2 separate regions of the Homo sapiens genome follow, and region 2 is reported to be linked to region 1. The links are microRNA targets in miRTarBase. Many come from high-throughput screens and were not tested one by one. Region 1 holds a microRNA gene; the other region holds the end of a gene's coding sequence.

Region 1 (3,400 bases):
ACTGCAACCTTTCGGCTCCTTATTCCTGCTCATCACTCAGAAAAGGGCAGTACTAACCCCTTTCCTAACCAAGACATGGCACTCCCTAAGAGCTCTTGTCTATAGAGTTTGGTCCTTAGAGGAAAGCAGATACCTTCAGCGTGAGAAGGGCTTGGTTGACAGTTTTGGGGTATTATGGGAAGAGTAGGTTGGGGTAAAGCTTGAGTCTAACTCTTGATCCTTACATGGACCTATGAGGCCCTGCCATTCAGTCAGGCACTGTCCTTGGGTCCTCAAATTAACTGCTGAGAACACTCCCCACTTTCCGAGGACGCTGATGGGAAATGGGCTCTGTCCATGCAGCTGGAAGGATCCAGTGCTGGTGCCACTGTCAGTGGCACCATCCTTGCCTTGAATGATCTTTCTTGCAGGCTCCTGCAGCTGAGTGTTTCTTGTAAGATTTTTCAGGGGGATTGGGCAAGAAGAAGAGGTGCAAATTCTGTTCCCTTCCTACCTTGAAGCCTTCCCAGACCACCACGGTCTCTGCACAAGGGAGGCTCCCATTACTGTTCTGTTGGCTTCTAGACCCACCATCCCCTCTCTTTCTGTGGACTCTGCCCGACTTCTGGCCACATGCAACCAGCAGAGTAAACTGCTCCAACACCTCGGGCATGTCCTAGGGCTTGCCCTCCCACCAGGGCCAGCCCAAGATTAGGTCCTCAGCAGCATCAAGGTCTGGGAGAGCCACTGGCCCACATGTCACCATTCTATTCCTCAGCCTCCAACAGGACTCTTCATTTTGGGGAGGGAAAGGGAAGATGGGGCCATAGCCCCTACCTTGAAATTGTACAGTGTGGAGGGGATGTTAGTGCCTACCTGTGACCTTTCTGCTCCACTGCTCAGCAAGATGAGGTAAGGTTGGGTGTCAGAGGGGACCTCCAGCTTCTCTGAAGAGCCAGCCCTTAAGGCACTTGGAGCAAAGGTCATTGAGATCAGCTTTATGTGGAGTAAGGAGGAGGCCTGGGAACCGCTTGTGGCATCAGTTGGGGCGACAGGTGGATGAGTGTGCTCTGATGGAGCTTTTACGGCCCACAGCCACTGCCAGGAGCCTGAGCTCTTCCCCATGCTTGGGACACGTTCCTTGGTCCCCACAGCAGAATGGACATTGAATTTTGGTGCTTTTCCCTTTGGTAGAAGGTGGAGGTATCTGAGGAGTTGTTTCTGTCTTGCTACCTCTGTCTACTATATAGAGCAAGAGTCGGGAATAGGGAGATGTGTGAGAATCACTCTCCCATGGATCAGTGTGGGCCCTGTCCCTCTTCCCCACTGTCACCAACCAGCAGCTTGGGGAAAAGGCTCTGTCGTGGATTTTTGCTGCCTGCTTCCCGCTTCCACTCTTCTTGGCGGTAGATGTTCATGGTGATCCACTTTGGGCGGTCTGAAAGTAGGAGGTGGGGGAAGAGGCAAGCCTGCACACACACTTCCTGTCCACAGGGGGTTGCCTGTGGCATTGGAGGGTGGAGTCTCAGAGTCCAGGGACTGGGAGGAAGGTACTTGATGGGATGGTCTTGATTCTGGAACTTTAGACTGAGGTGTTAGAAAGGGGAATTGTTGGCTAGGGGAGAAGAGCAGTTTAACGCTCCACTTGCTAAGTCGTCTGTATCAGTGTCAGAAGGTCTTGACCTCCCATTCAGATTTAATTTCCTAACTGCCAGGTGTGGGGCTGGGGATAGAGGGCCCAGAAGGGGGCGCAGTCACTGACGTGAAGGGACCACATCCCGCTTCATGTCAGTGACTCCTGCCCCTTGGTCTTCAGTGTTTTTCTCTTCCCCAGGAGGGACTTTGATCATGCAGGATAGAATTCTCCCATCGCACACCTGGGGGCAAGTTTTAGATGAGCTTCTTTCCTCCATTTCACCTGGTGGTCTGAGGACACACAGAGGGTGGGGGTGAGCAGGCAGTGTGGGTGGGGAGGGGCTACCTCCCCCAGACCCCTTACAAACTCTGTACCTCTCGGTGCGCGGCAGCCTCTTGCTGTAGTTCTTCTTTTCTGGATATGACTGTCAGTTTCGTCATGAGATTTCTTGCTCTCATTTCGAACTCTTTCTTTCTTCCACTTTCTTTGGGGGCGACCCCCGATCCATGCCAGGTCTTCCTGTGAAGACCGTTCCAACCTCGTTTCCATTTCTTGAATGTTGAGTATTACAACATCACTGCGCTAGGGTGCTTCATGGTGCTGTTCTCGAAGAGGCCAGTTGGGCTGAATCTCCTTCCTCCCACTGGCTCCTGATATCTTGCTGTATTTTGTCTTCTTTCTGATTTTTCCCTAGGGGTTTGGGGTGGGTGACTTAGGGGCGGCTTTTGTGTTCTCCCTCTCTCTCTCTTTCTTTTCTGTATGTATGTATGGACTGGTTAAAGTGAGTTTGGGCAGCTGACTTTATGGTATGGGTTGGCTGACTTTTGTTCAACATTAAAGACAAACCAACAAATTGTACAGCTGCACACAGAACACCTTTGAGTGTGAACTTGAATGGCAACTAGAGGCTTACTTTTTGAACTTCAGGTATGTAACTCAAAAGTAAATAAAACCACTATTTTTTCAGTAAGCTTTTTTTTCTTCTAAAAGATGACTTAGAAATCAAACTATAAGAACATGAAATCGGTGCTGTACCAAAGCCTTATATGAACATATTCTACACTCTGTATAACCTGTCTGTGAGGAGCTCCCTGCTCTATCACCCTCTTCTCAAAAGCCTGGGAATGCCAGCGCGTGCCAAGCCTGGGGCTGGGTCTTGGGGACCTGTGGGCCAAGGGCACCCTGGGAAGTAAAAGATGACGGTGAGGATGGGACACCCTTCTGCTGCCTGAGCAGACTGCAAGGAAACCAGATGTGTGTGTGTGCGCGCACCTGCATATATATGTGTGCATACCTGTGCGTGTGTGTGCGTGTGCGTGTGTGCACGCAAGAGAGTGAGAGCGGGAGAGAGCTCACAGGTGCACAGTGTCATGGTGAATGTACTAAGTACGAGCTTGAAGGGAGGCCCAGGTTGGCTCTGGGAGTGGGGCGGTGTGGGAATGAAGGGGGGATGCTCTCTCCCCTGTTTTCTGCCTCCTTCCCTTCTCCGTCAGGGAAGGGAGGTGTATTGGAAACAGCTACACTCTCAATCAGGTGCTTTTTTTCCCTCAAAATCTCCAAACTCAAAGCATTTATAAGGGGCCCTTCCAATGGGCAGGCACCCCCAGCCACCAAATCACAGACTTCCAAGAGTAGGAGGAACTGTCTCCTCCCGAACCCTTCCTTGCTTTCCTGGGGAAGAGGGTTCTTCCTGCAGGGACCCTGGGCATCCTGCTGCTGGGCCTGGGCCTATAGACTGCCCTGCCCCTTCTTCCCAAACACTGAGAAGACCCCGCTGGAGATGAC
Region 2 (3,400 bases), not on the chromosome of region 1:
GCCTGGTTATAGACAGTAGGCAGAAGGAGGCAGAGGGTTACAGTAATGTAAGATCAAGACTGGAAAATGATAGCTATAGAATTACAAGCCCGGTACCACCAGGTACCACATCACATAAGAAAAAAGGTTCTAATGTTTTCTTAACTTAACAGCAAACCAGTCCAGCTACGGGGGCCCAGCCAGCCAGCAGCTGAGTGGGGGTTACGGAGGCGGCTACGGTGGCCAGAGCAGCATGAGTGGATACGGTAAAGCCTGTTTGTTACTGTACTTAGAGTAAGTTATGGTAAAGCCTGTTCATTACTGTACTTAGAGTAAGTTATGGTAAAGCCTGTTACTGTACTTAGAGTAAGTCGCAGGCAGGTGCCTTTAGTTGGGAAGATGCAGGCTCCTTTCGGTGAAATTGGGTTATGAAATGTATGCTTTCAATCCAAATGTAACTGTTTTTACTAGCTAATTTTCAGAAACAATCATTGGGAGGGGGAAGTGTTCTTTGAATTAAGAACTAGTCATTGCAGCTTTGGAATACTGTCGAGCCAGAAAATATCTGCCTCCATGTATTAAAACATTAAATAAAGTTGTTCACTTTTTTGTCTTTTGGTTAGCATTAAGTCAGTTTTAGACAGAGGGAGAATTTGAAATAGTAGAATGGTGGTTGGGTTCAGGATCGTATTTATTAGTCAGTTAACCTAGGATTGGTTTTATTTATTTTTTTTCAATTGGTCTAAAGAATGGTGATTTTGGTATTATAGTCTTACCCTACAAAATCCTTTTGCAGACCAAGTTTTACAGGAAAACTCCAGTGATTTTCAATCAAACATTGCATAGGTAAATATTTTCTCAAAAAATATAAATTCCCAATAGCAAATACTGATATGTTGTAATAATGCTTTCTATAGCAGTCAATGGCTCTGACTTAACTCCATGGAGGCTGCCATTTGGGCACAGTGAGTTGCCTTTAGTCCAGCTTGGTTGTCTCACTTCCTGCCCACCATGAATAGGAAAAGCAAGAGACTTCCCCTGTGCTCCCTTTTCTCAAATGCCATTCGAGGGACACATTGTGAATGTTTATGTTAAATTTTTTTTAAAAATGCCTTGTTTAGCTTTAAAAATACGAAGTAATTTTGCAATTTTTGAAAAACACTAGTTTTCCTTTAAACTTAATTTTTCATGTTGATCCTGAAGAATCCGTTAAAATGGTAGCACAAGAGTCTGGCAAGTTGGTACTGCAGAGAAAAGGGGTTAATTGAGGCTTGTTTGGAGTCGGGATTCCCCTTTCCCAAACATGCGTCTCGCCACTTGGACAGCAGCCATTTGTACTCGTATACTTTTTAAACTTTTTCTTGGAATACTATATTTTATTTGACTGGTAGTCTGATATTACTCCTAACTTGTCAAATTGATCTCTTTGCAGGTAACCAAGGAGCAGTGAACAGCAGCTACTACAGTAGTGGAAGCCGTGCATCTATGGGCGTGAACGGAATGGGAGGGTTGTCTAGCATGTCCAGTATGAGTGGTGGATGGGGAATGTAATTGATCGATCCTGATCACTGACTCTTGGTCAACCTTTTTTTTTTTTTTTTTTTTTTCTTTAAGAAAACTTCAGTTTAACAGTTTCTGCAATACAAGCTTGTGATTTATGCTTACTCTAAGTGGAAATCAGGATTGTTATGAAGACTTAAGGCCCAGTATTTTTGAATACAATACTCATCTAGGATGTAACAGTGAAGCTGAGTAAACTATAACTGTTAAACTTAAGTTCCAGCTTTTCTCAAGTTAGTTATAGGATGTACTTAAGCAGTAAGCGTATTTAGGTAAAAGCAGTTGAATTATGTTAAATGTTGCCCTTTGCCACGTTAAATTGAACACTGTTTTGGATGCATGTTGAAAGACATGCTTTTATTTTTTTGTAAAACAATATAGGAGCTGTGTCTACTATTAAAAGTGAAACATTTTGGCATGTTTGTTAATTCTAGTTTCATTTAATAACCTGTAAGGCACGTAAGTTTAAGCTTTTTTTTTTTTTAAGTTAATGGGAAAAATTTGAGACGCAATACCAATACTTAGGATTTTGGTCTTGGTGTTTGTATGAAATTCTGAGGCCTTGATTTAAATCTTTCATTGTATTGTGATTTCCTTTTAGGTATATTGCGCTAAGTGAAACTTGTCAAATAAATCCTCCTTTTAAAAACTGCACTCTGTCTTGTCTGTGCTTCAGTGTCATGTGGACTGAGTCTTGGTGCTCTGTGCCCACCTGGGGCCTAGGGCCACATCTCTGGCTTGGCAGTTGAGGCTGTTGCGTAGATGTCTTCAGTCTTCCCTCCAGTGCAACTGAAGGTAAACTCGTCTTTGGGGCCCTGGTGGAAGGGCTGTATGTCATTTGGCTGCACAGGACCTGATCTGAACTGCCTGTAACTCATTAAGCACTTGCACAAAACAAAGGGGGAGGCGCCAGTGCCCTCACTGCATGCCTGCATGTCTTTGAGGCCTTCATGCTTGGCTGGGAAGGTGCCGGAGGCAAGGGAGGTGTGATGAATATGTGGGTTTCTTCTAGCTCATAAGCTCATAGGTTTGTTTTTTTTTTTGAGGCAGAGTTATATTCTGTTGTCTCAGGCTGGATTGCAGTGGCGTGATCTCAGCTCACCTGCAACCTCCACCTTGTGGGCTTCTGCCTCAGCCTCCCAAGTAGTTGGGGTTACAGGCGCCCACCACCACTCCAGGCTAATTTTTTTTGTATGTTTAGTAGACACGGGGTTTCACGATGTTGGCCAGGCTGGTCTCCAACTCCTGACCTCATGAGATCTGCCCACCTCGGCCTCTGAAAGTGCTGGGATTATAGGCTGGAGCCATTGCCCAGCCTTCACAGATGGTTTTCAAATGGAAGTTTTGAACTTCTGTATTTTTGGGTCATTCCTAAAAATCAATTCCACTTGGAAGCAAAATTCCATGTAAGTCTCCTAAGGTAGAACGATAGGTAGAGATTGAGAGCTAACATGAGAAGTTTAAATGAACTCTTAAATATATCACGTTTTGGTAGTTCGAAGCTCCAACATGATGATAGCAAGTATTCAAGCTGCTTCCAAGTGGTGTACCTGAGCGAGTTAGAAACGCCACACTTGGAGACGAGTTCAGGAGTCCTTTATTAGCCGGCGACCGAGAGACGGCTACCGCATGAAAGTATCTCGGCCTCGAAGAAGGAGCTAGATTTTCTTTTATACTTTGGTTTGGAGAGGGGAGGGGGATTCTAGCTGCAGCCATCTTAGGGAAGAAAAACAGACAAAAAAGTTAAAGACAAATGGTTACAGGAAAACAGTTCCAGGTGCAGGAGCTTCAAATTCATCACAAAGTGACAGGTGAGGGGGCTCTGGGTGTTATCTACCGGACAAACATGGGGGCTTGATGG

The links. The annotated mature microRNA hsa-miR-4697-3p reads UGUCAGUGACUCCUGCCCCUUGGU and lies in region 1 at 1,766-1,789, shown strand. An mRNA with a match to its seed (bases 2 to 7 or 8) in the 3' UTR can be bound and repressed. Matches are read on the target gene's strand: a 7mer-m8 pairs with bases 2 to 8, a 7mer-A1 pairs with bases 2 to 7 and ends in A, and an 8mer does both.
Region 2: the mRNA of HNRNPH1 is a reported target of hsa-miR-4697-3p. Seed matches in the 3' UTR shown: 7mer-m8 at 1,546-1,552.

Annotation. Positions count from the first base shown.
Region 1 is chr11:133,896,895-133,900,294 of GRCh38, reverse strand. MIR4697 (microRNA 4697) reads left to right here and starts at 1,714; the gene lies at 1,714-1,791. It overlaps IGSF9B (immunoglobulin superfamily member 9B), which reads left to right. Exons shown (of 20, transcript NM_001277285.4): 20 at 1-3,400.
Region 2 is chr5:179,612,971-179,616,370 of GRCh38, reverse strand. HNRNPH1 (heterogeneous nuclear ribonucleoprotein H1) reads left to right here. Exons shown (of 14, transcript NM_001257293.2): 12 at 153-245; 13 at 776-825; 14 at 1,412-2,193. The coding sequence ends at 825. All of the region lies in intron 4 of LOC128966623 (a long non-coding RNA gene), which reads right to left. Among named protein-coding and RNA genes, the nearest start is that of HNRNPH1, 9.0 kb to the left of the region's middle. RefSeq lists an enhancer at 2,484-2,543.